2 separate regions of the Homo sapiens genome follow, and region 2 is linked to region 1. Evidence: fine-mapped expression QTL. A gene starts in region 1. The other region holds a variant in brackets. All regions are shown on one strand. Distances are between the middles of the regions.

Region 1 (15,436 bases):
AATCAGGGAATTGATCCAATCATTATGTAGTAGCATTCCTCATATACTCATCCAAATGGCAGATTGTTCTAATGCTGTGATATGTATTTATACCTTTTCAGCAGGCCCCTGCCATCTGGATTTGGAATTCTTTTAGCAGAAGACAAAGCCTTTTCATGTTTACCGATGAAGCTGCAAAAGGAAAGACCCACAGGAAAAACAATCCCTGACTTTCCCTTTCTGTCATTCGCCCAAATCTCCCTGGCTCAAAACCTCATCAGCATCTTCTACTCCCTCTCTCTTCACATCCAGACACCAAGTCCTGCCAGTTCCTTCTTTGATGCATTTTTCATCATCTTACTTGTTTTCCATTCCTTCTGCCAGCTTCCCATATTCAGGCCTTTATTGCTCTACACCTGCCTCATTGAAATCACCTCCAAAGAGAACACATCTGCTTTCGTTATTAGTGGTCTCCACTGGCTAAAACCACAGTTTCAGCTTTTTAACCTGGCATAAGTACCTCCATATACAATCTCTAGCACCTTTTTCTGTACTTAACACTACTCTGTGAACCTTCTGCTTTAGCTAAAATGTTCTAATTGGTATTTCTAACCAGATCTGCTACTTCAAATTTAAGTGGCACATTATGTGTAAAAACCAGGTGGCAAAATTATAAACATTATATAAGTTTGAATTTTTTGCCTTGTACCTACCCCTGGCCACCCTGTTGCAACTCTTTAATGGTTAATGATTCTCTCCTCATTCTGATGCTCTCCTCCTTACTCTGCTCAAAACTTTCTTCCTCTCATCTAGCCATTCCTTTGGCTTTAGACCCATCTTTTCCTCTCTCTTCCAAGACCCTTTCGGGTTAATACAACACATGGGAGGTTTTGAGTCTGCATCTTTCTCAAGGATCAACATTTGCATAATCAACCCAGGCAATTAATCAACATCCAGCAATCAGATAGAAATTTCATACTAGGCCCTCACTTGCCAGGAAGAAGGGATCAGGGTGTTTCCTGTCACCTCATAAGGAATGTCTGCCTTTTCATATTACCTCCCGTCGGCCCAGAGCTCAATCCTACATACAATATACAGCAATATACAGTGTTCTCTACCCACTCTTCCCTTCCCACTATGAGCCCACAGTGATCTTTGTCTTCTGAATTCTTATAGAGCCAAACTCCTGTGATTCATCCTGTTTATATGACACTTTGACCCTGTCATGAGTAGTTACTTGGCCTTATCAGTTTATTTTTATATATTCAAATTGGTTGAAAACTACTTTAAGGTAACAACAGCATCTTATATTAATTTATAGTTTTATATTTCAATATTATCAAGCAGTAGCTGACACATGATCACTGAAAATGGGTTAGTAGGGCTTCTTAGTCACACTGGAAGTGACTAGTAACTAACAATTCCTTCACTTAGTTGAGGTGTTGATAGAGGCCACAGGAAGGCCTGTAGAAAACAGAAAGCCATTGTCCCTAGAGGAAGAGATGCCAGAGGAAGGAGCAAGGGTCGAGAACAGTAATAGCCAAAATTCAACTGAAAAATGTGTCCAATTCAGCATTTTACTCAACATCAGGAACACATTTAGGTAACATGTTGAAAATGACAAACTTCAGATAGTTCTTATTCTATCAATTCCTCTAATTTTACTCTTTTTTTCTTTTTTGGAGATAGAGTCTTGCTCTGTCACCCAAGCTGGAGTGTAGTGGCGTGATCATAGCTCACTGTAACCTTGAACTCCTGGCGATCCTCCTGCTTCCCCTAGGCCTCAAAAAGTGTTGGGTTACAGGTAAGAGCCACCACTAGCACCCTGATTTTATTTTTCACTCTTGGGATAATATGTGTATGTACATACATCGCCTGAACCAAGCTTCATGAGCTTCAGAGTGCTCTCTGCTCTGGCAATAATGGCCATGACCTTTGTTTACTGGAGGTTTACCCATGCTCACTTTGCCCTGCAGCCATCATTCTGACACCAGAAAGCAGCAGAATGAACAAACATAACAACAGAAACAAGAGGTGTTTTTGACTACTTAAGTAGGGAAATAATAGAGCATAATAATTAATTTTAACATAGTAATACGTCATATATACAAAACCCTACTATGGAAGAAGACCCAGCCAGAAAATAAAATGCCCCTCTACTTTTAATTGATGAACCCCAAAACAATCAACTGTTTCTTTTGAAACAGGGGAGGTTATTTTCCTCCAGCTGAATGTTGCAGGGTAGACAGAGGAGGGATCTCAGCACCACCCACTGTTTTAAAAAGGCAGATTGGACCCCTGTTGCTTTCCCCAGAGACTGTAGTTTTCCTCCATATATCTTCAATTCTGTCCATGTTAGAAAGAAACCTATATGTTACCTGCAGGTGCCAGTCATAGAAAATGCATGGTTTTATGCCTAAATGATATGTGACTTTCTTTTTCCAGAGGCAGATTTTTTTTGAAAGAAATCACCTATCTAGAATGAGTTTTACTGTTGAAAACTACACTTATTTCCCTAAGTCAGATCCCTGACCTGTAAAGAAGGATCTTCTTTTAATCACTGTATTTTTTAACTTTAATTTTAAAATTATACAAATAAATACAAGTAGGTAGAGATTTTGAGTGAAATAAAGATGCATGTGTTACTGACATCAGTTAATTCTAGCATTACCATTATTAAAGTCTTTTATTGTCACGAGGAAAAGTGAAGGCAATTTTGATGCATCAGCACTTTACCTTAGTATAAATACTTTAAAGTAAAAAGAAAGCATCAGGCACTCTTTTGAGATATGCAGCTATTTTATTTCTCTAAATTCTCTATTGCCTTGACAATTATGCTCCAGTTGGATGTTCCTTCTCCATTCTTGTGTAAATATTCCAAAGCCGAAAGAACAAATGTCCAAAAGTCATTGTCACACAATTCTGTAAAAGACACAAATAAATGGAAGTCTCAAAACTTCTAATGTAAAACTTGCTGGCCAAGACATAATTTGGATGAGCAAATTTGGGGTTTGGATTATTTTAAATATAGACTTTGTTCTTAAAATTTAGTGTAACATACAGAAAAACTTGGTTTCTGATATGGCTTTACTTAGATTATGTGAGCAAAAATGAAACTGAATTATCAAATGAGTAATAGTTGTGCTGGAGAAGTCTATCTTATCTTCTTCACTGCAGACCCTTCTCAGCATTATACATGCATAGACAAACTATTCCCAAAGTTCTAAAACTTTCCCTGTTTAGCTGGGATATGATGTCTACTTCCAGTTTAGAATACAGAAGCAGACACCAAAGGAAAGCTTTGTTCAGTCTGACAAACAATAAAATGGCTTCAACTGACAGAGCTGTCCTTTCACTTTCTTAATTATAAACAAATGAACTTTTCACTGGCAATTTTTGCAATCTGTAAATGTAATACGGTTCTCAAAACAGCAAATGAAAACATTCGAAAGGTACAGCTGAAGAGAGAAAAGAGTAGGGATCAATTACTTTGTGAATTTTCTGGAAAACAAGACCATTATTCATAAGAAAATTGGAGGCTAGATCAAACAATGACAAACCTCTAGATCTCCATCATGTAGTTGGAAATTTACATCCAGAGTACCTAAATAACTTCCCTTTCTGGGGCAGCAAAGATTTTAACCAGTTTCTCGGCAGGAGTGGCAAGGCTTCAAGAATAACTGAAGGAGAGAAAGCCTGGAATGCTGCACAATTCAAAGGGCAAAAAGGTGGTTTCCGCAGACCCTTGGTACAGCAGAATGGTCACGCTAGGGAGCAATTAATCCCATAAAAGACTCAGCCTCCCCAGGAAGACCACCTCCTAACTAGTCCTTTAGGACCCTGCTATTTAAACTATCTGCCTGTTGTCACAGATAGTGCTAACCTATGGACTATCTGGGCATTCCATTGAAAGCCCAGAATTCCTATTTGGAAAACAAAGTTCTGCTAACTTTGTGTCTTGGATGTCCTGTAAAGCAAATGCAGCGAGTGTTGGGACACGCTAAACAGAATTATTCCCCGATCCAAAAAGGACAAGAGCGTGAATTAGGAGGAAAAATTCTACATCGTAAGGATAAAATTGCTCTTTCAGGTTTTACTGGGGGAGCCAGCTGGAGCCTTGGGCACGCGCGCCCTGGGGAACCTTTCCTCTTTGCCGCCCCTGCGTGTCGCCCCTTTAAAGCCTTCTTGGTCTCTCCAATCCCAAGAGTTCCGCGGCATCTTGCGCCACTGGCTAAGGCAAAAACCTCAGGTGTCTACCCGCGCTTCAGGGCGCCCCAGAGCGTAGGCGGAGGAACCCAGATCCTGTAAGTCAGCAGCCGGGAGCGCCTAGCGCGCTGCGAGAGCACAGATGGCTGGGGAGGCGCGCGGATTCCAGGCCTCTCAGCTTCCCCAGAGCGCAAACAGCGGCCGGCTGGCGCCTCCCGCAGTAAGTAAGTGGCGATGTCAGGTCGTACACACTCGCCAGCTACCTGTACAAACAGCGTCCGCTCTCTCCACTGTATGATTGTCAGTTTCTTTGGTGAGTGCTGACACCAAGGCAAGCATAAACAAAGTGGTCTGCACACCCTCCTCCTCCTTGCTCTCCCCCACTGGCCCGGCCTTGTACTTACAAGTCCACTCTAAAAGATACCTTCTAGCCACTTGCTTTGAGTCCAAGGAAACAAAGGAAATAGGGGTTGTGCACTGCACGAGAGAGTTAATCTCAAGTCTGCGAGAAGACGGGGAATCCCGGGGGCACCGCTGGCACGGGGAAAAGCAGCCTCTTCCGCCTCTCCGGACCAGCAGATTCGTGCATAAGGATGGGCGAGGGCAGAGAGGGAAGCAATGAAAAAAAGAAAAGATAAAAATGGGGAGAAAAAGGTGAATATTTCAAGGGCCACAGGGCGGGAGAGATGGAGCAAATTCCCAAACCTCAAGTCCAAGTTCTAGAAGTTGGGTGATGGGGTGGAGCCCCTTAGTGGGCGCGGCGGCTGTGTGTACAGTTTATTTATTTTTTGGATTTTCTGCCTTGAACTAAGCATTAAACATCCACCGCAAAGATTTAGGAGATAGAAGAGAGAAGAGGCAATTACTGGGATCAAAACTGATGATACAGGCGAAGTCTGAGCCAATGTCGCTTCTCACAAACTCTCTGAATTTCCTGGGCTCTCAACGCTCCTCCGCTGGGTCTCCTTTGCACAAAGGGCCCTGCCGTGGAGCAGGAAGTGGGGAGGGGACCAGGTCTGCAAGCCGTGAGCGGAGCAGAGAGAAAGAGGAGAAGTGGCGAATTATCTTAAGTGTTGATTCCCTAGGGTTGGGGGAAGCATAGTGAATGGGACGGATCCTGTAGCCTCGACTGGCCGGCTACTCCTCCGTCATCACTGGCGGCAGAACTTACACTTAATGATCTTCTTAAACGCGTTTTGAAAGTCCTTGTTGAAGTATGCGTAAATGACGGGGTTAAGCAGAGAGTTGGAGTAGCCCAGCCAATTGATTATGGCGCCCAACAGGGTGGGCATGTGGCAGCTGCTCTCGCAGAAGGGCAGAACAAGAGCCACGATGAAGAAGGGCAGCCAGCAGAGGATGAAGGTGCCCATGATGATGCCCAGCGTCTTCACTGTCTTCCTCTCTCGGGCCAGGGCCATCTTGCGCTTCGCCTCGGCGTTGCGCTCATTTTTCCTCTCGAAAGAGGCGGGGGCACAAGGGGTAGGACCAGCCTCGCTGGGCAGAGGCAAGTGCTCTTTGGAGTTGCCCACTCGGTGCACCTCGATCACCTCCAGGGCGGCGCCATCGTCACCTTGCCTCACCGCGCCATTGGCGCACAGAGCACCCCCAGCCTTGCTCTCCACGCCCAGCCTCCAGTTCCTGCTCCCCGACTCTCCATTCACACTCTTCTTGGGCTGCGGGGCGGGAGATGCTCCATGGCGGGTGTCCGCTCCGGTCTTCTCCACCTTTTTGACCGTCTTGCGGATGCGGAAGCGCGCAGCTCGGAATATGCGCCCATAGAGAACCAGCATGAGCAGCAGCGGGATGTAGAAAGCTCCAAAGGTGGAATAGATAGTGTAGCCATGATCCTTGCTAATGGTGCATGCGTCGGGGTCCGAGCGGTCTTCCGGGGTGCGCCAGCCCAGCATGGGCGGGATAGAGATGAGGAAGCCAATAAGCCAAGTGAGCGAGATGAGCGCAGCGGCGCGCCGGGGCGTCCTCTTGTTCACGTAGTCGATGGGGTCCGTGATGGCCCAGTACCTGTCCAGCGCGATGGCGCACAGGTGCAAGATGGATGAGGTGCAGCACAGCACGTCGAGGGCGATGAACAGGTCGCAGGTTACCTGGCCCAGTGTCCACTTGTTGAGCACCTGATACAGCGCGGCCATGGGCAGCACCAACACCGACACCATGAGGTCGGTGACCGCCAAAGAGCCAATAAGATAATTGGCCACGTTCTGCAGGGAGCGCTCCAAGGCGATGGCAGCCACCACGCACGCATTGCCCAGCACCGCGCAGAAGATGAGCGTGCCCAGCAGCAGAGAGGTGATCACTTGGTAGCTGACGGTCACGTCGGAGATACCAGTAGTGTTGCCGCCGGTCTCAAAGGGAGCCGGTGGTGATGTGGTGTTGTTGCCCTGACCAGGGCTGAGCACATCCATGCCTGCGCGCCCGGCGCGGGAAGGGGGAGGGAAGAAAAAGCAGCGCGAAGATTCGCCTCGCCCCTTCCCCTGGGGTCTTCCGCCCTTCTCCTGGGAAGTTTCGGAGGAAGGGAATGCAGAGACCCAAGCAGGAAGTTCTTACTGCTTCGGCGAAGGGTATCTCCGAGGAGCAGCTTTCAGGCGCTCCCTGGGCTCTCGCAGTCCAGCGCGTTCAGAAGCTCCAGCTGGGAAACTGGAGTTGGCCTGAAAGCAGCTCCAGGATCTCCCGGCGGCGGAGAGGTGGCTGGAACGTCTGTCTGTCGCTGTCCATTTTACTTTGCCGCTCCCGAACTGGCTGCCGGAGCTGGAGTCTCCCCACTAGCAAACAGTCTCCAATCCCAGAAATATCTAGAACCGAGAAGCCCCATCCTCCACGGTCACTCTGTGACCCTCCTCTCCCTATTTCCTTCCTTCCCTCTCTCCCCCTCTCTCCTCCTCTCTTCTCTCTCTTCTGCCTCTTTCGTCCCCCTTCTCCCCACCTGCCTTCCCTTTCAGTCTCCCTCTTCCTCCTCACTTCCCTTTATTTATCCCTCTGTGAGTCGCTTCGAAAGCCAGGCTCCTTCCCTCCCACTCTAACCCTCCCCTCCTAATACTTCCCCAACCCCGAGGAGTGCCTCTTTCCTCTGGGTCCCCGCCCTCCTCTCCCTCTAGCTCAGCGTCTTTGCATTCGAGTCTCTTTTTGTCAACAGAGACTCAGAACTCACTTACACACACCAGATCCCTGCCGGTCAGACCAAGGTTGTAACAAATAAACTCCGCCTCCAACCCAGCAAAACTGGGGTTGGAAAAACTTGGGGGAGGGAATTCCAACTACTCCTTGCCTCATATTATCTGCCAAATTCTTAAATCGTGTCAGCATCCCAGAGTGGCAATAGGAGATGAGAAAAGGAAGCATAGGGAGCCTGAATGGGAAGGTGAACAGTCCTGGGTCAGTCTCCCAATTATTGCTAATTGATGGAAGAAGACCGAGTGTGTCTTCCTTTTTAAAAAGCTACCTCCGTTCTCGCGCCATTGCACTCCAGCCTGGGCGACAGAGCGAGACTCCGTCTCCAAAAACAAACGAACAACGACGACAACAACAACAAAACGGTACCTCCGTTATCATCTAACAGTCCAGCCTTACTCCCTCAGGGAGAATATTGCCTGTGACTTTTTTTTTAACGTTGGGGAACCGGGAGAGAACGAAATTATAAAGGACGTGTCAAAGGACAAGGAGAGGTAAACAACTGCATCTCGAAATGAAGAACAAAACTCAGTGTGATATATATTCTAAACACACACACACTTTTCCATCACTACTACACTTGTAATTTCAGTGACACTGCCACTTCCCATAGCTTTGTGGCTAGTAAATTCAGGGATGGAAATATTTTGCATATGTGTTCTAAGTGAAGCCTGGCATTTCACATGGCCTTTTGCACTTCTTACCAGAGCCTGCAAACCTCTGGGGGAAACTTGGTGGAATCCCGGTTCGCTAGCCGGCTAGCCTCTCTTAATCTCAGAAACTGGGTTCAGCACCTGGGACAGTTCTAAGCAATGAGGTTTTATGTCGCCACCTTCTGGCAAATGTTTTAGAGTGCCATCTGGAAACCCTTATGCAGAAATGAAGCAAGTATTGAGGAAATACAACAACTTTTAGAAAGAGGAAGACAGTTATTAAAAGACAAGGTAGTATTGAGTTTTGTCTCCTTCCTATTTTCTTTAAAAATTTATTTTAGTGCCCTCTTTTGCTCTGAACCTTATATATCAGGCCTATTATATGTTTTAGCTTCCTTCGAAAGCCTGAAGTATCTGTCATTCACAAGTTCTAACTGGGAATGCCATTTTAATAAAGCTAGGCTAACACTTTCACCTGTGTTGGTTTTGTGCTGTCATAACCTGAACTTTGGAACTGACATAAATTTACCTTTTGTTGGAGAAACGAATAGTATTGCATTTTCCAAATGATTTAACATTTGGAAATGTTAAATCACTGAAAATAAAGATACTTACAAGGGTTTGTTCTAAGCTGTTTCCTTTAACAAGAAAAACAAATTTAATCACATTTGAGCATTGGTAAAGAATGGGACTTCTAAGCAACTACAGTAAACATACCACACAACATTTCACTTATACATCCTGATTGCATGCCTGAGGTGAAAGGAATGCAATCTCAAAAGCAGTTGACACTGGATAACATGAACAGATTCACTACAGATTGCAATAATCTTAATATTGTGTTCAAATCTGAGCTCTGAATTTCATAGCTCTGAATTCTCCAAGCCCAAACAAAAGAGCAATCACCAAAGCATCAAAAAGAATCCAGTTGGGCCAATGCATTACAATACAGGACAGTGTGTTTGGATAAGGTTTTGTTTGTTTTTTTTTTTTATAGTTCAGTGCTGGGCACAGTTCCCACTCAATCATTTCAGCATGCCACCACAATGAGCCTGCCATTTGTGATGATTCATGGCATTGAAAAGAAAGAGATAAGTATACATGGTAATGCTGTTTACAGACTCTGAAGAAGTCTTTTTAAGATTTGTGAAGGTATCTATTTCCACTTCTAAAGTCTCTTCACAAATACAGAACTATATTTACAGTTAAAATAGAGTTAGAGGTCCAAAAATTATAATGGGAAAATATTTAAAAGCTGAATTATCTAAAATTAAACTTTGAAATTATAGTTGAGACTATAAACAAAGTAAAATAAAGGAAACTTAAAATTTAAGAAGCAAATATATGCATATCAAGAACATAATTAAGAATTGTGTCAAACAACACATGTAAATATGTAAATCACAAATAAATCAATAAATATGTTAGTTAGAATTCTGCTTTCATCTGTTGGATCCCAAATAGTTTAATAACTGACAAATTTATTTTTTCTCATCAAGAAAGTTAAAATGCTGTAAAATCTGGAATTAATATTCCTGAGGTATAGCATTTGTTATTCTGCTTCAATATGCTATGATGTAGAATTTATCAAAGTTTTTAAAAATCCAAAGTAATTCAAGTTTTTTCTTAGTAATAATATACATAATATATCAAACATTTTATTTCTTACAATTTAAAAGTTTTTAAAGGCACACTTATGAATACTAGGAGGGAAACAGAAGTATGAAAGTATGCAGCACTGACTATGGTTCCATAGTCTGCAAGTGACTAATAGATATTTATGTTTAACTTTTTAAAACTAATAATACTGTGATATATAATAAATGATATATGCAGAATGATATTGCGTTTCTTCATTTTCACTTAGCCAATTCTTCTATGTTTAACTCTTAAAGATACAGAATACCAAATATTTCTTAAGTAAATGCTGCAAACCAAAGCTCCTGCATAAAGAGATGAGCTCTTATTCTTCAAGGCCTCTAAAGTTAACCTAAAGAAAAGCAAGCTTTATAACGGATATTATTGATGATATCATTTGAAAAGAAAAATTCTAGTCATTCTGCCTTTATTCCTTTTTGAATTTACTAGATGCCAGCATAAACTTGTCAGGTTATGAATTTAGGGTATGATATATCATCCATCATGTGAAATTTCTCTAAAATAGTTTTAAAAAGATAAATATTTTTAACATTTTCACAGGAAATTTGATACACACCCAGCATTTCAATGTAATTCCTTGACCAGGGACACAAACTAAAAAGATTTAAGCTGAAGTTTTGCTGTGAACCTTGAAGCCCTATCATTACTGAAGGCTGATGGTTGGAGTTTCTCAGTAATTGGTATGTTTGTCCATTATCCCCAAACTACGGCTGAATTGTTTTTATTACTGAAGAAAGAATCTATACAGTAAAGAGTTGAATATTTGCTTATGAGATTATAAAAGTTGTTTCTAAAAGCTCCTACTGAAAAAAAAGTTTTTACTTTTTTTTCATGTAATTGAAATTAGAATCAATTATTTTGTTAGGTTAAAAATATTATTCTAAATTTAATTCTTCCCAATCCCCAAATACTGTAGCAGTAGGGCAATTGTGTTTTGTTCAGAACTATGAATTTTGATTGGAAATGACTAGGAGAAACAACTTATAGGAAATTTTCCTTACATAATTTGGGAAATGTGGTCTTCTGATTATCACTGAAAAGATTCAAGAAATGCAACCAAAATGCCAAGAAAATAATTTTTCTTTAAAACAACACGGTTTGTTTTTGTATTGTTTTCTTGACTTTTTTGTTGTGTTTTGCTTTTTTCTTATCTAATCCTCACCATTTACCTTCTCTAATAATATCATTTCTTCACTGCTTTTTATCCCTGTCAGGCACTTGCAGGCCTGGAATTGCACTGGGTTTTCAATGATAAAACACAAACATTGGAAGCTTCAATCTCTGCTTTTGAGAATTGTATGGTTGACTTAGTGCAGTGAGTACACATACTAAAAGCACAGTACATAAAGAGTGAAAAATATAACATGTGTTCACTATGTGTGTGACTTGAACAAATTAATTAACCCTCTTATTTCCTCAGTAATAAAACGAGTGTAATAATAGACTTGTGAAGATTAAACCATTTAACACATTTCACTGGCTCATAATAAACACACAATAATGATTAAACAATAATAGTAATAATACAGATGCAAAGTAAAAATATTAATTCTCTCTCTACTGATAATCGCTCTAAAGTATGGAAAAAGAGAGCTGGATGGCCTTAGAGAGTGAAGACTGAAAAAAAAGTCTCTTTCATGGGAGGATATATTAGGAAAGAGATTTGCATGTGGATGTTACATTCTCCCCATTCTTTAAAGTATTTGGTAAGCTTCCAGTTCTCTGGGAAATTCTGAGTAAAAGACAAGTAGAAAACAAGATGTGATTGCTGCATTCTGAGACTTCTTTACATAATCAGAAGTTAGTGAAGGGAATAAAAGAACATGCCAATGAAAGTTCAATGATCAGTATTGAAAACGACCCTACTCTTTCCCTGGAAGTTCATGCATTTGTTCAAAAGCATAAAATAAGTATTTGAAATTTGTAAGTCCTAATAAAATATTTAAAGTTCAGTAAAAACCCAAAAAGAGTATTTTTATTGTGAGAAATTATCAGATTTATAGTGACAAGCATTAATAAATGTACTTTTACAATGCTGTCCTTCTGTCAATATTTTTATTGTTCACTTTTGAAAGAGTAAGAGCATAGTCGGGGTGAGAAAAATGCTTGGAATGTTAGTTCAAAATTTCCTATTAATCTAAAGATAATTGGAAATTAAATTCAATCTAACAATTATTGAAGCAAAATGCAGTTATTCTGTTTAACTTAACAGGTGGAAATGCCCACATTTTTATTTTCTTTGGCAAGTGACATTTTTGTGTAAAACTTAAATCAGTGCTTAATATTATACAGTATTTTAATGTTTCTATACAACATGCTATTATACAAATGCAATAATTGTGATTATAAAATACTGGTCTAAAACTGTGTCATTTGGTGTATTGAAGCAGTAATGTGTTGGTTGAATATAGCCACTCAGGGCCACAGTTCTATATTCAAATAACTACTCTGCAACGTACTAGCCTTGAATTATTTCCTTAATTTTTTTACATTTTATTATATATTAAATAGGATTTATTAAAAATATAAAGAATAATATAATAAATGCCTATGTGCTTAAGAAAAGCTTTTAAAAATAGCATTGATTCAATTGAAGTTCCTGTTTACTCTTGAATTTAGTGTTTATTATTCCCATGAATGTCTTTGTATTCTTATACGATATGTATGTTTCCCTAAGCAACTGAGAAATGGTATCATTCTATATACAGTCTTTTGCAACGTTTTTTTTTTTGCTCAACATTATCCTTGTGAAATTTGTCTGTATTGATACAAGCTACTTCATATAATTCTACATCATTTATTGTCACTGTTCTGTGGATTTAAATTGTATGAATAGTGCCACAGTTACATATCCATTCTCTGGTTAGATTCTGCTCTTATAAATAACACTTCTATGCACATTCTCGTGTATGTCTTTTTGCATCCATGTATCTTAGAGTAGACTAGATTAGCATGTTTCAAATAAATTACATGGGGATCTTGTTTGAAATGCAGATTTCCACATAGTAAGTCTGGGGTGCAACCCAAGACCCTGCATCTCTACTAAGCTCCCAGATGACACTGATATTGCTGCTTTATAGACTATATTTAGAGTAGCAAGGATCTAAATATACCAAGTGGAATATCGAGTCCTAAGGTATGACCAAATTCTGCTTGACTAGATAAAACCTAATTCTTCTCCAAACTGGTTATATAAAATTTCATAACCACTGCTGTGGGTTGAATTGTGTCCCCCAGGAGGATAAAGGATTCACGTTGTCTGTGAATATGACCTTATTTAGAAATAGGGTCTTGGCAGATGTAGCCAAGTTAAGATGAAGTCATACTGGATCAGTGGGTGTTCTAATCCAATGGTTGGTGTCCTTATAAAATGATGGAAATTTGAACATAGAGAAGAAATACCATGTGAAGACACAGAGACACACAGACACAAAAGAAGGAATGCCATGTGAAAACAGAGGCAAAGATTAGAGTTATGCTACCACAAGCCAACGAAGACCAGGGACTGTTGGCAACCACCAGAACCTAGGACAGGTGCATACGGCGGATTCTCCCTTAGAGTTGTCAGTTTGGGCTGTAACACTTTCGTGTCAGATTTACAACTTCCAGAAATGTAAAACAATGCATTCCTGTTGATTTAAGCCATCTGGTTTGTGGTGCTTCCTTGTGTTCCTAGCCCTTGGAAACTAATACAACCATTAAAAAATGGTTTACATTCCCATTGCTTCATCAGGGTTGACTGTTTTTTCATGTTTCTTCACAGTGGACTATCATATATTCTAATATATGATCATATATTTTGATCACATATTTTGCTTATTTTTAAATTGGTTCTTTTGTTGTTTGTTGTTTTGTTTGTCTTAACTTACTGAAGTCCATTATCTATTATGGATATTAACAACTTCTCCCTGTAGTTCTGTCTATATTTGTTTAACATACTTTGAGGACATGATAGTAGGTACATACAATGTTAGAACTAGTCTATCACCCTGCTGCTTTAAATAGTTATCCTCTTTATCCCTAATAACATCTGTTGTCTTAAAGTCTACTTTGTCTATACTAATTATTTTTTGTTATTTTTTGCCTACTATATATTTTTCTATATTTTAAATTTTGTCTTTTCAGTATCTTCAAGTTTTAGGTTAATTTCTTATACAAATACAAATATGATAGTTACTTTCTTTTCAAATCTGAAAATCTTAGTTTTTAACTGGTAAGTTTAGTTTTAATTTTATTATGACTATTCTTGTATTAGAAATTATTTTTAGGCCAGGCACGGTGACTCACACCTGTAATCCTAGCACTTTGGGAAGCCAAGGTGGGCAGATCCCTTGAGTCCAGGAGTTCAATAAATACTTTTAACCATGTTATTTTATGTTAAAAAACATGAACATACTGTGTATTTGGTGCTTCTCTTATACTTACTCTTTCCTTCTATTCTACCCAATAAGTTTTAAAATTCATTTTCTTCCTCTATTGCATTATTATAGAAATTCTACACCCTATTTCTGGATTATCTTATAATTTTAACATACATAAACAAATTAAAGTATAAAGATTATTTATACTTTTCACTACTTTCAAGCTATACAAATGCCTTTAAATACTTTAACTCAGATCACCCCCATCTTCTAGGGTATTGTGAAATAATTAGTTACCTTGATTTTGACTTTTACTTCGTTAATTAAATATGATTATTTCATTATTTATTTCAGTATGAATATTTGCATTTACTTGCCCACATGTTTACTAATTTATTTGATTATCATTTCTTCTTGTAGCTCAGCTATTTCTTCTGAAATTATTTTCTTTCTGCCTTAAGAATATCCTTTGGAATTTCTTTTATAAGGGTCTGTTACAAATATTAATAAGTTCTATTTTTTATTGACTGACATTTTATTTCCCCCTCATTTAACTAACTACACAATTTTAGATTGATAGCTTGTGTGTGTGTGTGAGTGTATATATATATATATTATATATATGCTTCTCAGAACTGGAAAATATTATATAAATATTATTCACTTTGTGTTGTCATTGATAAAAAATCAACTCTCAGTTGTCAGTTATGTATAAGAAATCTTCCTTTTACTCCAGCCGCATTTAATACCTTTTCTGGTATTTATTTTGTTCTGAAATTTCACCTTAATATGTCAAGATGTGGATTTTTTTTTCTTAGTTTTCCCGGGATTCATTTTACTTGTTGAAACTGAGGATTTACACTTTTCATAAATACTGATTCACTCATTCGCAATTAATTCAACAGATATTGCCTTTCCCTCATTCTTCTATTCTCTGCTTATGCAATTGTAAATATACTAAGAAAAAGAAAACTTCTCCTGTCCTCCATGTCTCTTAATCTCTCTGTCGTATTTTGTTTTATTTTTCTTTCTTTTTTTTTTTTTCTGAGAGAGTATCTCATCCTATCACCCAGGCTAGAGTGCAGTGGTGTGATCACAGCTCACTGCAGCCTCCACCTGCCAGGCTCAAGCAATCCTCCCACTTCAGCCTCCTAAGTAGCTGGGGACCACAGGCATGTGCCACCAGGCCCAGCTAATTTTTTTTTTTTTTTTTTTTTTGAGACCGAGTCTTGCTCTGTCGCCCAGGCTGGAGTGCAGTGGCGCAATCTCAGATGACTGCAACTTTCACTTCCCAGGTTCAAGCAATTCTCCTGCCTCCGCCTCCAGAGTGGGTGGGACTACAGGCACCTACAACAATGCCCAGCTAATTTTCTGTATTTTAGTAGAGACAGGGTT
Region 2 (15,436 bases), 35 kb before region 1:
GGGTTCCTGCAGGTATTCTTCAAAATTTCTCAACCAAATAATGATGCAGATATTATTTACTTGTTCATAAATTATTTTCTAGACTATGGTATTGAATCTGTTTGCCAGTTGGGAATTTGGGGTAGTCCAGCAATGGTTATTTCCCATTCTACCATGAGGGCTTCTGGCTGGAGCTTCAGGCTATATTAAAGCATAATTTCCTCTTCAATTTTAGTGAAAAGGCCTGGGTCTTTCATTCCAAAGTCATTTCTGACATCAGAATTATCTCACAAGTAAAGAAAGGGATGGTCGTATTAGAATTGCTTCCTCTGCTTTTTATTCTGCCACCCTCACCATCCATCTCAGAACTCAAGCTCTGAGCATATTTTAATTTCCTTCCGCATTGCCTATGGGCATGAAGCACCAAATCAGCCTGACTTATGGGAGGGGCATATCCTCTTTTCACTAAAGCCCAGCTCTCAGTCCTTCAGCAACTGAAAGTCAGTGGCAATGCAACCTTGGTGCTGCTGTGCTGCTATTGATCTCTTTGATGAAAAGTCACTACTTCCAGATCATATATCTCTTCTACTCTCTGGCATACCACATTAATTTACAGAATACAAATAAATTTTCACCCCACTGACAAAGAAATCTCCATGGAGAGGATCTAAACTGTTCTGAGAAATCCACATTCTGTTGGCCACAATGATGTTCCAATTTCACCACTAACCTGCTTTGCTTTCCTCTTTTCCTAGCTTTATTCTAGTCTTTAATTTTCATATACTTCACAACTTTCCAATCCTCTTCCCTGCAGTATAAGCATAAAAGTTTGCCTTGTCCATAGATGGTATAAGATGTGGACACTTGGATCAGACCTATTTCAGAATCTCCCCTTAACCTGATTATCACACACACACACCACCTTTACAAAGGCACTTCTTTGTTTTCACATGCCTAGATTAGACAGAAGAAAAGGTAAAAGTAACAAAACACAAAGTAAGAAAAGACTCTGAGTTGCAAATTTTGGAAATTAACCATAGGGTCTCTATGCTTCTGACCAAAATTCCTAAATGATAAACACCCTGTTAAGAAATGTTTTGTAAATTGCAGTTTTTCCAATAACTAAATATTCCTACATTCCTGACTACATGCTGGTAAGTTTTCTTTACAGTGTCTGAGGTGTGGGGAACAATGTGGAGAACGGTCTGGAGAAGAGAGGGAACACAATGTTATGGAGGAACAGAAATTTCAGTAGAGCCAGAACACAGAGTAGAAGGTGGAAGTGGTAAGAGGTGATGTTAGAGGGGAAAGGGGGGCCAAATTATGATAGACCTGAAAACCATTACAGAAAGCCTTCAGGCAATGTAAAACCTCTGAGGGATTGCCAGTATGAAAATATCAAGATAATTAATCTTTGAATTTGGGAAAGATCACTGTGCCTTAAGTACAGAGTCTAGACTGGAAAGGGGAAGAACTGTGGCTAGGAAGCCTATTAGGAGGCAATAAAAGGGGCCCACACAAGTGGTAATGGTGGCCTGAACTAAGTATTAACAGTGGAGATGGATAGAGGTGAGCTGGTTTGAGACAAATGAGCAGGAAAAATTGAAAGGACCTTGTTATTGTGTTTCGTGTAAAGAAAGGAAAAGAGAAAAATCGAGGAATTCGCCCAGTTTTCTGGCTCAGAAACTAGATAAATAATGGTCCCATTTATTAAGTTAAGGCACACAAAAAAGAAATAATTTAGATGAAAGCACTTGGCCAGTTGAGTTTGTGGCATTTTTTAGTTTAAAATGCCTTTAAAGAGCAACTACAAGGCCTGTGGCAAAGCTTTCCCTGTAGTGGAACAGGGAACCAACAGCATTCCCTGTAGTGGTCTTTCTTCCTGAATTGAAAAGGAGCATATTTGCTGGTCCCAGAACTTAAAGCACCCCACCACTGTCACCAGAAACCCACACTGTACAGAAATACTGGCTACTAAGAGGACCGCCACACTGCATAACTTCAGGAGGCATTACAGTCTTGTTGCCACAATGTACCTCTGTCTTTAAGAAAATTATTTTTAACGGAATCTCCAACTAGGAGACCTCTGAGGCCATGTGACAGAATTCGTGTAGTGTCACCCTGCTCTTGCTGCCCTCTTCTTTAAATCTTTGTGGTGGAGGAAATAAAACCAACCAGAAAATTCTTACTTGAATACTGGAAGGAAAAGCAAATATATTGGGTTTTTTTAAAAATAAAAATCGGGTTTTTTGGGATAAAATTTGTGAATCCCAAACACAAGTCTGGTTTTCAGCAGGATTTCTCCATTCTGTTAGGCCAGCTGTAGCCAAATTGGAATATTCCTTTAATTTATTTGTCAGACCTCCTTAAGGCTGCATTTAAAACAACCAGGCTCTGATTAGTGATACTTGAGATTTACGTATGGAAAGGAAATCAAAAGTCCAGGAATTAACTGGGAAAGGTATGACATTTATTGCCATATTGTAATTGAATAAGCAGCTACACTGTCACAAACTACAATGTTCTCAGAAAGAAATAATTTGCCATATGATTTATTCAGTATTTGGACCTTAAAATCATTAGTTATTAAAGCAGAAAGGGACTTGGAGATTATCTGACCCAATTTCCTCATCTGGCAAATAATGAAACTGAGGCCCAAATAGTCTAAATGTGTCATTGAGTAATGGCAATGCTTTGTTGAGAAACGACAATGTTGTGTGTGGGAGTAAAGTCACCTAACTCCAGGCCTGTGCTCTTACCACTGATCTACACGCTTCTCCATGAAATAACTCATAGGCTAATCTACAGAACCCACCACAAAGAACCTGGAAAGCTGACAGTACATCTACCTAATTTCCTATTGTATGTATGTTCCAAGTAATGCAATCATCAATTTAACAATATGAAAACAAGAGGTTCCTGCAACCACGAATTCATTGGCCAGCTGGCTTTGTCAGTATTATTAAGTGTCCAAAGTGCTTCACATGATACCAAAAAAAAAAGGCTTATTATCAACCCACTGTCAAAATCTAGCTTAGTGGTTCTCAGCCAAGGATAATTTTGCCCCTCGAAGACATTTCATAATTTCTAGAGACATTTTTAGTTGCCACAACTGGAGAGTTGCTACTGGCATCTTGTGAGTAGAGGCCAGGATGGTTTAAAACATGCTATAATGCCCATGGCAGCCCGCACGAAGAGAATTATCCAGACCAAAATAGTGATAGTGCTGAAGTAGACAAACTTTGTTTCTATTCATTTTGCAAGCAGTAACTCAAAACCCCTCCATGCCGGGTGCAGTAGCTTACACCTGTAATCCCAGCACTTTGGGAGGTCAACGCAGGAGGATTGCCTGAGCCCAAGAATCTGAGACCAGCCTGGGCAATATAGTGAGACCCTATCACTACAAAAAAATTTAAAAATTAGCTGGACATGGTGGTGCATGCCTGTAGTCCCCACTTACTAGGGAGGCTGAGGTAGGAGGATAACTTGCACCCAGGATATTGAGGCTACAGTGAGCCCTGATCACTGTACAGTGAGCCTGATCCCAGGCTACTGCACTCCAGCCCGGGAAACAGAGCGATACTCTGTCTCAAAACAAAAAAACAAAACAAAATAAAATCCCTCCATCACTGGATACAGGTAATGGTGCTGCTTCACAAGAACTGAAAAGGGAAGAGTGGTGGACAGCTGTCTGGGAACAGAACAAATGCATTCCATAAAGCCAGTGTAACAACTCAGCTGAGCAAACACCCTTAGGAGGAAGTATGGGGCATTGGCTGGAGTCCAAGGGACTGTGTTCATATTCTAGTTCTGTGTCCTTGGGAAGTAACTGGTTGTTGATTTTTTATTTCCTTTCCACACATAAATCTCAAATGTCACTAATCCGAGACTTGTTGTTTTAAATTGTTCCCAAGGACAAATATATCCCTAAGTCCTGGTTTTCTCAGATGTAAAATGAGGGTAAAAAATAGGACACTCTTCCCAGGGTGGTTGTGAAGATTACATGAGATGATGTATATAAAGTTCCTCATATGGTGCTTTCGTCTAGTAAATGCTTAATAAGTGGCTATTGCCACCAAATTTAGAGCTTGACAGAATTAGTTGTGGAATCTAATTTTCCCATTTTATAGATGACAAAACTAAGTCCCAGAGATTTGTAAATATTATTTCTTATATTCTCACTAGTGTTCCATTTGAGGCCTAGAGAGTAGACATTCAATAAATATTATGTTAGTTTTATTTGTCACGAAATTCTCAGCATCTCAGGAAAGAAATAATAAAAATGTGGTGATACGGTTTGGCTGTGTCCCCATCCAAATCTCAACTTGACTTATAGCTCTAAGAATTCTCACCTAATCCGGGAGGGACCCAGGTAAAGGTAATTGAATCATGGTGGCCAGTCTTTGCCATGCTATTCTCATGATTGTAAGTAAGTCTCATGAATCTGATGGGCTTATCAGGGGTTCCTGCTTTTGCTTCTTTCACATTTTCTCTTGTGGCCACCATGTAAGAAGTGCCTTTCACCTCCTGCCATGATTCTGAGGCTTCCCCAGCCATGTGGAAGTGTAAGTCCAATTAAACCTCTTTTTCTTCCCAGTCTCGGGTATGTCTTTATCAGCAGCATGAAAATGGACTAATACATGTGGGTAGTATTGTCCCCTTTCACAAATGGACAATTGAAGCCAAACATTATGTATCTTACCTGAGGCTACCTTTTGGCAAGTAAGAACCCTGATCTTCAATGTAATACTCAAGTGCTCATTTGCTAATTTCACAGCAAGGCAAGTTTCAGATCATTTCTACTTCCTTTTTTCAAGGGTTTGGCCCTAATTTTATCATTTAGATATATCCATGTTTCCCTCAAAGGTGGAAGTTTCCAAAGGGAAGATGATCAATCAATTGCTGACAGCATAAATCATCCATAGGCAGTGTCTGAGACAGGGCCCATTTCATTTTTCATCTTCTTGACAATAAAGCAAATTAATCCACCAGCACTAATAAACCTTGTATCAATTTATCTAAATTGGTCAAGAATAAGAAAATATCAGTGGTTACAATGCTAATGAGCAAACTTTTTTTTTTCTCATAAGAATTCTGGGCCAGTGGTGATTTTGAAAGGGAATCTGTGAAGGAGTTCAAGATCCTCTATACAGGTGATGTGTTCTGTGTAGTTTTCCAAACTCTCAGTGAGTCAAGAGTTTATCTGAAACCCACAGAGAGAAGGCCAGACCAAGTAATAAAGCCTTCAATCCTAAGAGCAAATACAAAGACTTCCTGTCCTGCTCTACCACAAGCATACAGAGAAATGTCAGAATTGGATAATACCAGGCAGTCATTAAGATATTAAAAAATAATAATAGTAAGGTAAAAGCAGCTACACATATAATTGTCAAGCATGTCCAGTGTTAAAATCCACTGATGTGGCCCAAATTTGTAAGTGTATTCCTTACTTCCCCATTTCATTAGTATTATCTTCCAGATGTTTTCAGATCTGGAATGTCTGGTGTCTGGGACACCAAGGGTCAGGTACAAGATCTCTTTGTCAAACTGCCATTTATGCTGCAGGCCCTGAGCCCTACCCCATCCAACCCCTCATCACTGGAGGAAAACACAAGGGTAGGTAAGGCCATAGCAGCAAATCACTTGGCAGGTTTCTTTGTTATTATGTTTTAAAGATTCCTGTTTCCTAATTCTAGATTCTGCTTTTCTTAATTTTTTTTTTAACTAGATGAATTTTTTGGAAATCAAAATGTTCTCTGTAGTTTGGAACTACAGCTTAGGTGGGAAATCATGATTAAAGCTTTTCCAATCCTAAGCAAAATAAATAAAAAAAGATGTACAGAATTTTATTGTAATGCAGGCTAGAACACACGCTCTACATTGCCATGCCATGTGAATTTCATGTCTTTGTGGTTTGGCTCTCTTGTCTAATTGTTTATTTGGTCCACTCGACCCTTTTGGATGTAGACAGGATGAATGTGTTATTATTTTTGGTATCCTAGTCATGTTTCCTACCCCATAGTAGAGCAGATGTTTGTGAGAACAAATAATGTGAATGGTCCAGAGAGAGAAAACCAAGTGAAAAAACCACTGCTAACTTTTCTTTATGCATGTGGGATGTAAAAACACCAACGTATGTTAATGTTGCTTTATTATTCAGAGGGAGTTGAAGTTCATTTTCTTTCCTTGAAGTCTTACTCTTTCTTTAGCCTTGTGGGTGTGCCTTTTGTGGGACCCTGTTAAAATTTAAAAGATAAAAACTTTAATCTTTCACAAAAAGTTGTGAAACAAAGAAATTGCATGATTAAATGAATCATTTATATTTAGTAGGACAATTAAAGATAAAAAAACTTTGATTTTTTATCTTTAATTGTCCTACTAAATATAAATGATTTATTTAAACAAATTAAAGTTTTTATCTTTAATTATCCTACTAAATATAATTCCCAATTGAATGTTTAACTCATAAATTCTGTATGATAATAAAGCCATTTAGCCATCTGTCAGTTAATTATCCATGGTTTGCCTCATCTTACAATTTTGAGGATCAAACAATTAAGACCTTAAAAGTCTGCCTGTTGGAAATTTTAATTCCAATTAAGAAAGTCTAAAGTTTCCAAGTACCTTACCTTCTGGTGATTCAAAATACTCAATTAAGAGTAATGAAACACATTTCTGTGTTAAATGACTATGTGAAAAGTCTAATTGTATACATAAATTGGTTAATATTTTAATAACTATGTTAACATATTAACTGTTTCCAAAATGAAGATTTTTAGTAAAAATTCTAGTCAACCCACATTTTGCACTAGCCCCAATAATTTTCTTTCTGAAGCCACACTTCTCCTTCCAACTAATCCAATGCCCCTAAATGATGTTGTTTCAATTAGTATACAATGCCAGATATTTAGAAGATTCTGCTTTATATAGTCCAAATCAAATCACATAAATCAGTTAAAATTAACTTAGTTACAGGCAATTTTATTGCATATAACAATTTTTTTTGTTATCTAATTATGGGAAATAATAAATAATTTTAATATTTTATATTTTGGCCATCACTTTTTTTTTAATTTGGGGGGTTTTATTTTATTTTATTTTATTTTTAAGGTTGTATAGACATAAAAATGATTCTTACAGTAAGCATTACAAATTTGTTTTTGCTATCTTATTTATTATTTTGTTTATACCCTTACTGTGTTCAAAGATACATTTGAGGCAGCTCTTAGAAATATATGTAATAGAATATAAGGAAAAATTTTTCAATACAGTAATTCAAGAGGACAGAAAAATAAAATCAAGAAAAGAAATAAAGTCACGAAGTAAAGTTAAAATAGAAACATCATTGCTCAGAGACACATCATGAACTAGGCTCTGACCTTTCTATTATCCAAAATGACAAGAAGAAAAATCATCACTTACATGACCCACAGTGTCCATAGATTAAAAAAACAACAACATAGTTGCTCAAACACACACAAGTATTCCTCAAATTAAGGCCTGAGAAACATTCTTCCCATTAGTCTGCATATAGAAGATTGTGTGAAATGTAAATAACAGCATTCTCAACAATATCTCAGTAGTAAATACAAAAATGAGAACATTCAGGATTGTTTCTACCAATGTCTCTCAATGAAGGTCAACAAAAACACAATGCAAAAACAAAATCAAAAACAAAAATCCAGTTGAATGAATGCACCCGAGAAAGAAAAACGCTAAAATGATGCAGTATAAGGCAGCAGCTCCCTCTTGTCTGACAACCCATTGAAGATATTTTAGAGGATCTGGAAGAGTACTTGGACTGTATATTCTCAGGTAATACTCCATAAACTTGTAATAAACACTGAGTACTAGTAAATTCAAAGTATTATTTTCAAGTAAAGAAATAAAAAATCACAGTTTCTCAACGGATACATATCTGGATTTTATTTAAAGTTCCTATTTATCTAAAGTGTTCCTAGATATAACTAATGTTCTTTTCAAGGGTTACCAGAGTAAAGTCCTTAAATGGGCCCCTCCACCACTCTCTGCCCACCTGCCCACCCCAGGTGTGTGAAATGACATGGTCTTTAATTCCTAACCTCTTCCCTTTCCCATCCTTCTCATTAAGAAGAAAGACAAGACTTCCTGAAGCATTAATACAAAACAAACAAAGTTCTCATTTTTTTATTTGGAATTAATCCAGAAATTAAGAGAAAAGCAACGCCATAGACTGAAGTGCCAACCTCTACTATTCCTCCATCTCCC[G/A]GCTGTTTGGTGCCAAACCTGTCATGTATCATAGTTCACAAAGCTCTGAGGCCAGATGGTAAGGGCATGGATTGCTTTGCAAATCACTAGAAAGCACTTGGAATTAGCCTGGTGTTCAATCAGCTATCCAACATTTGACCTTCTACAGACACAGACAGAAGCCCTGCTCATCAATAGCTCCTAAAATGGGCCACTATTATTTTTTTGGCCTTTCTCGCAGGCCTAAGTCTAGATCCTAATTTGACCCAGTACAAATAATTAGGCCTAAACTCACTGGGCAAGTACTACTTTCATAATGAACCAGAGGAAGAGTGCCAGTTTGTGCAGTCTGTTTTTGTAATCCACATCCTTTTCACTAAGTTCACTCTCTTTAAGCTCATAATAAACAGGCTCAATAGCCTAAGACTTTCTCTTTGAAAGGGGACTCCAATCGATACTAAAAATATTTTATAAAATTACCATTTATATCCAAGAAGGAATCTGTAAAGACCTCTAGGCTTAGAATAGTTCCAAAAGTCTATGCCCTCAACCCATCATCCTGGTATTTGGAGAAAAACCTTAGTGCTTTAGCACTAATGTATCCATTTTTTTAGCACTAAAAAAGACATGCTGGGATTTTGAAGTTAAATTCATAGAGAGACTATTAGTTTACAGAGGTGAGGCAAGAATTAAGAAAACTAACAAGGGATGCAGAAGCAGCCAGGGACCACACCAGCAAGAAACAGTTTCCACCTTCAGGCCTAAAAGAGACAAGGGGAGCAAAGCAGTGTAACCAAAGGCATGTCAGAATTGATTGGAGAGGCCGGGCACAGTGGCTCATGCTTGTAATCCCAGCACTTTGGGAGGCTGAGGTGGGCAGATTACGAAGTTAGGAGTTCAAGACCAGCCTGGCCAACATAGTGAAACCCCATCTCTATTAAAAATACAAAAAAAAATAAAAATTAAGCCAGGCATGGTGGTGCACACCTGTAGTCCCAGCTACTCAGGAGGCTGAGGCAGGAGAATCGATTGAACCTGGGAGGCGGAGGCTGGGGTAAGCCGAGATTGTGCCACTACACTCCAGCCGGGGCAACAGAGCAAGACGATGTCTCAAAAAAAGAAAAAAAAAAATTGACCGGAGTTGTAATCTGAAAAGGAAAAAGCCATTTCTGCAATTGCAACACAGAAGTCAAAGCGAAGTAGAGGAGACCAAGAAACACTAGGCCCTCTTTCTCCTCTGTGTTAGAAATAACCCTCAAAAGCCTAAAGAAATTGAACACTCGAAAAAAAGGATTCTTAGCAAAGCAATTTTACTTCTGCGCAGAGTGGTGTCTCCTTGGCCAGTCACCATGAGAGCACACCTGAACAAAGGGCACGAGAGCCTTTATTCCTGATGCAAGTCCTGCCCCTGTACCCTTTCCCCATTGGCTGGGGTCGGGTCGTACAATCTAAACTAATCCGCTTGGCTAAACATTTGATTTTTTTTTAGATAAGGTGGGCATGTAAAAGAAAGTGGAGAGGAAGGGGAAGGGGTGTCTGTTATGAGCTAGAAAGTTAGTCCTCTTTCCAAATAAGGAAAGGAATGTGAGCTGTTACTGATAATGCCTGGTATTGTAGTGTGCCTGAGCATCTAACAAAGTCAAAAAGGAAAAAAGGAGAAAAAGGAAAAGTTGGGGGGGTACTATTAATTAAAGAATAAAAGATTAATCAGATTATCTGAAGAGAAACCTCATCATATCCCACAGCTGGCTTTCTCATCTGCTGTGGAAAACTCCCACTGGCTGAACCTAAGTAGAAGTCAAGGCAAGGGAGCCTGCTGGCATAGCCCACAACAGAGAAGAAAGGAAAATGAGGCAGAGGGTGGAGAATAACGAGTGCAATGACCTTGCAAAACAATGGCATTTCTGGACCTTCCATGAAGTACTTGGAACTCACGTGAATGCAATTATTGTGGGATCTGAGGCACTCAGCTAACTGGTGCTGTGTAGAGGCAGGTCTCTCCATGAGAAGAGCTCATAATCATTCTTGGTTTCATCCTCTCAAGGGAAAAAAAATACCTTTATACTATCCAACAAATAGAACTTTTCACTTATGTTTTTAAAATATTTGCTGATTTCATAAAATTTTGCCTGATTAATGGCATTTCCAAAGGCAGCATTTTTATTTTTCTCCTACAATGACAGAGCATTATGTGGAGATAGTGGAGATGTGTGGCTATCCAGCAACGTGTCCCCCAACCCTATGCTTATGGAAGAGAAAGAGAGAAGCTTTTTTTTTTTTTTTGAGACAGGGTCTTTTTCTGTTGCCCAAGCTGGACTGCAAGTGGCATGATCATAGCTCACTGCTGCCGCAACCTTCTGGGCTCAAGCAATCCTCCCAACCTCAGCCTCTCTAGTAGCTGGGACTACAGGCACAGGACCACCACATCTGGCTAATTTTCATATTTTTTCTAGAGACAGGATTTCACCATGTTGCCCAGGCTGGGTGTATTTAATCCAGCTGTACCCTGATCTTCATTATAGACTCAAGTTTCAACTCCTTTATAATTGACAATGCACAGAGAATCTCATTTCCTAATTGTGGGAGAGAGAATATAACGACGATATAAGAGAATACAAAGACAAAGGAAAGAGAAGCTTGATGGCAAAGTGCTAGCAAGAACTCTTCACATATGGCTATTTTCACATCTTAAATGTAATTTGCACATATTCAACAAGTAAACGTTTCAAAAGGTAATTTAATCTTAAGCTAAACACCTCGTCTAAGTCAAAAGACAGACGTCAAGCTTTTTTTATGTTAAATGTAAAGCTTGGAAGAATACTTCCTAAAACACTCCCACGACACACATTTCTCATGAAAATTATACCTTGCAATGAAAATGGTGACATAGCCTAGCATGCATTCACTCAATACTGCTCCATACAGAGAAAAGGGAAACTAAGGTCATCAACAATAATTTAAGGTTTCTGAATTATTCCAGAAAGTTTGGCATTCCCAGACTGAAATTTTGACTGGAAGCTGGAATGTTCCACTTGCCAGCAGATGGCTTATTAGATGAGAATACCTTATGAGCTGTGTAAGAACCTCTTAACCCTGGGAAGTCCTGATGGATATAACTGCAGAAAACAAAATCATAATTACATGAGGCTTAGATTGCTCTGTAACATACAAGGTCCAGGTTATATTACAATCCTTTAATTTTCTTCAAATTTAATTAGAAGTAGCTCAAGTCCCTTCCCACTAATATTAGCAAGAACACTGATATTAGTCAGTTTGTGCTCTGCACACTCCTTAGAATCACTGAGATAGATAGATTGACAGATTAATAAAAACTGACCTTCCAGCTTTCCAGTTCTTGAGCAGGGAAGAGCCTCAGTCTGTGGCTGCCACCACTGCCATTTGCTCTTTGAGGCCATACCAAGCTACTGTGGAGCACTTGTCTCTCACCATCTGTCCAAGCTGTTGTGCCATCTGTGGTCTAAGCCAACAAGCACTATTTGTTGATGGGCAGCTCCCTAGCAGCTTCACTCATTTTTGGGCAAAGTCTGGCAATGGAGAGGCTTTTCCTGACCCTAAGGCCATAGCTCTGTCCTCACAGGCATCTCATCAGGCTCCTGACCCTCAGAGTTGCAGCGTCTAAGTGAGTTCAGACCTTTACCTTCCAAGAGACTTACAACCCTTTCCTCTTCCCACTCTTTGTGGATAAAACCAAGGTTACACATTTATTCTCCTTTCAACACTGTAAACTTGGATTGGCTCCTTCTTCTCTCTTTTGAGAAAATTAGATCTCATTGCTTCAATTGCCTTAAATGGGCACGCAAATACACACACACACACACACACACACACACACACACTAGGCACACAAGACTTTTTAATGGCTTTTTCTTTTAAAAGGTTACATGTCAGCCTGCCAATATCATCAAAGTGGAAAACATCTATGAGTAAGAAAACCTCAGCCTAGACACCCTCTGAGAGAGGAAAAATCCCATTTCCTTCCTTCCCAATGAGGTTGCTATAAAGGAAAATGAAGCACATAATTTCTCAGAAGATGACCCTCATATACAAAATGTGTAACAAATTTATTTGTTCGTGTATTAATTCAAAAAGTATTTTTGAGCTCCAGCTGTCTCAAGCAGCTCAAATGTCACTGGAGATAGAATAATGAGGAAAAATGTATTGTCCCAGCTCTTATGGCATTCAGTCTGGCCATCATCAACAAAAAGTGATCAACAGACTACAATGGTGCAAACCACTGCCCTTACCCCTGGAGAAACAGGAAAAGCACAAGACTCTATCCCTGTATTTGAAGGGTATTTAGACATAGCTAAGTACATAAAATGATTAAACACCATGCCTCATGCTAAAAACCAAAAGTACAAATGATAGTTTCCATACACAATCCTAAAAATGACTGAACAACTGCCAGATTTAGGGAAAACAGAAATAACTTCAGGAGGTGTAAGCACTTTAGCCAGGAGCCAAGGAAGGTAAAGGACACTGACAAATGGTAAAGAGGAAAAAGAAAATTCCCAAGTCACATTAGAAAGTGAGAAAATGTTTGAAATCTTAAGGAACTCAAATAACTTTTAAGAGGACCAAAAATGCTTAGTTTAGTTTTATTTTTAAGTGAATGTTTAAAATAATGCAGACTCTCAAATCTTATCTATCATTTTACTCATAAAGCTGCTGTCAGCTGTGTTTTCAACTAGGAATTATCTGATAGACTCAAAACCCATAAAACTGTCCCTCAATCTTCTTTTTCTCATAAAAAGTATTTCTCTCTGTTACTTCTTCCTCTAGCCTCCTTTATGATGGTGAAGAATTAGGTAGAGAAACTTTCCTTTCAGAAACAGAAACTTTGTGTAATCTCAATGGAAAAGTAAATCACATGATCTTTCTGAAAGATTATTTAGCAATAAGCATCAAAAGTCTAAAACTGAGCAAACCATCTGGCCTCATAAATCTACTTTCTAGGAATTTATCTAGAGACATAATCATAAATTTGCACAAAGAGTTTGATGAAAGATGTTTATTGTAATGATATTTGTAGTAGTAAAATAAATTTAAGGCAACTTAGCTACATAAATTATAGTATAGGCATATAAAAGAATTATCTTGAAAATATTTAAGGATATTAAAAAATGCTCAGAAGGTGAAAAAAATCATGTCACGAACTATGAACATATGATCCCAAGTATCTAAAGCATTACATAGGAGAAAAAGATATTAAAATGTTAAGACCTGTTATCTCTGGGTGGTAGTATTATGAGTGAAATGTACCCTTTCCTTATGCTTTCTGGTATTTCAAATTTTTACAATAGAGATACACACATACTCACACACACTCACACTCACACATACACACACATATAAACAGCTAGTTCTAAAAGGGATTAATCTCATGTTTTTTAACTGTCAGGGGAGTATTTTGAGACCCTGAACCCAGTTTCTAGTCAATTTTGGATTTATTAATATTAACCATCTTCCATAACCCTCCTGCTTCATTATCCATTTACCAAATGGCATGGAAAGTAAGCCATGTACACTAAGCCTGCCTAAGATGAGAAGAAAACACTGGCGTCCGCCAGTAACATTGTTTTTCTTTCATGTCCACTAAGCCTTACTCAGCCACTAACCACCATGCCTTGGGCAGGGAAGCCCATTTAGAATTTTACACTCATTTTTAAATCCTAGATTTTCTCTACACCACTAAAGAAAGTATGGCTTCCAACTTCAGGAGCCCATGCCCATCACTCAAACCAAAATCAGCTGGGGGGGACTGACTACCCTGCTCTCCTGCTATGCTGTGACTCTGAGGCAGCCTCTCTAACCTGACTCTGAGGCCAGAGTGAACCAGGTTGGGAGCACAACTTAGAGAACTGGCTCCATTATAGCAAGATTATCCTGGAAGGGAAGCTTCCCATTCCACATGAGGATACAGAGAGCCACAAAGAGCATCGCTCTCACACTCACAACAGCAACAAAAAAGTAAGGTAAGCTATAATCATACGTCCTTTCTTAAATCCATAAAAAAGCTGAAGTCATAAGGCAGTCAACTAGCCTAAAATCTAAGGAGAGACAAACGCATGTAAGGGAAGGAGAGAACATAAATATTTTATTACGCAGAGCAGATGCAGCTGAACACCTATATGAAGAAGTAGCTAGAATAGTTAATAAATCGTTGGAGGCAGATTGTGACCTGGCAAGAGTATGTAGAACCCATGGAGGCCACAAATTTGGGGGAATTTTGTACCATATTGCAGGCTTTTTATACACAGACCTCAACAAACACTTATTAAAAAAAAATTAACGCCTGTAATCCCAGCACTTTGGGAGGCTGAGGCGTGCGGATCATGAGGTCAGGAGTTCAAGGCCAGCCTGACCAATATGGTGAACTCCTGTCTCTACTAAAAATACAAAAATTAGCCAGGCATGGTGGTGCGCGCCTGTAGTCCCAGCTACTCCAGAGGCTGAGGCAGGAGAATTGCTTGAATCCAGGAGGCAGAGGTTGCAGTGAACTGGGATCACACCACTGCGCTACAGCCTGGGCAACAGAGCAAGACTCCATCTCAAAAAAGAAAAAAAAATTTAGTGAGACTACAGAGAAAGCATCCCTACAGTGCAAGCACTGAATATTGCCTTCACAGTTACAAGAGGGAAGACAGATCCTCCCCATGGAAGAGCACAGTGGGAACACCCAAAGCTGAGAGTTAAGCAGCACTGAAACAAATCCATTGGCAAATGAACCCCACCCTAAACACAAGGTATTGCATTGCTAAAGGCATTTGAAGCCTGTAGTGCATAAAGAATATCTATAGCAACAACAAACCTCAAACTAACTTAATTTGTAATCAGATTAATGGAAATCCTCCTGCTAAAGCCACAGCAGAAGGAAAATCATCATCATTTCCAGACACAAAAACTGTTGACCACAATCACTACTGTCCTACACAAGGTGTCCAGTTTTCAGAAAAAAAAAAAAAAAAAAAAAAAAAAACCCTATGAGGCATGTGAGAAGACAAAAAAAAAAAATCATGCTGACAAGAGACAAAGCTATCAACAGAACCAGACTCAGACTCAGACACAGATGCTGGAATTATCATATAGGGAATTTAAAATAACTCAGATGTTAAATATTCTAAAACAGGGTTTCTCAACAATATTGACATTTTGCGAGGGATTATTCTATGTTGTAGGGGCTGTTCCGTGCATTGTAGGATGTTTGGCA

Which allele goes with the higher level. Alleles are on the strand shown, and positions count from the first base shown. SD is a standard deviation of normalised expression in the study named.
In carriers of allele A in region 2, the expression in cerebellar hemisphere of the gene that starts at base 7,331 in region 1 tends to be higher than with G alone (large effect, 2.2 SD a copy in GTEx).

Evidence for each region. PIP is the estimated chance that this variant, and not a neighbour inherited with it, causes the effect.
Region 2: its variant is fine-mapped to the expression of HTR1A in cerebellar hemisphere (GTEx, PIP above 0.99).

The regions. Positions count from the first base shown.
Region 1 is chr5:63,955,115-63,970,550 of GRCh38, forward strand. It overlaps HTR1A (5-hydroxytryptamine receptor 1A), which reads right to left and starts at 7,331. Exons shown (of 1, transcript NM_000524.4): 1 at 2,760-7,331. The coding sequence starts at 6,605. The coding sequence ends at 5,337. RefSeq lists a silencer at 5,208-5,429 and an enhancer at 6,068-7,045.
Region 2 is chr5:63,920,376-63,935,811 of GRCh38, forward strand. No RefSeq gene overlaps it. Among named protein-coding and RNA genes, the nearest start is that of HTR1A, 34 kb to the right of the region's middle. The variant G/A (reference allele first, on the strand shown) is at 8,227.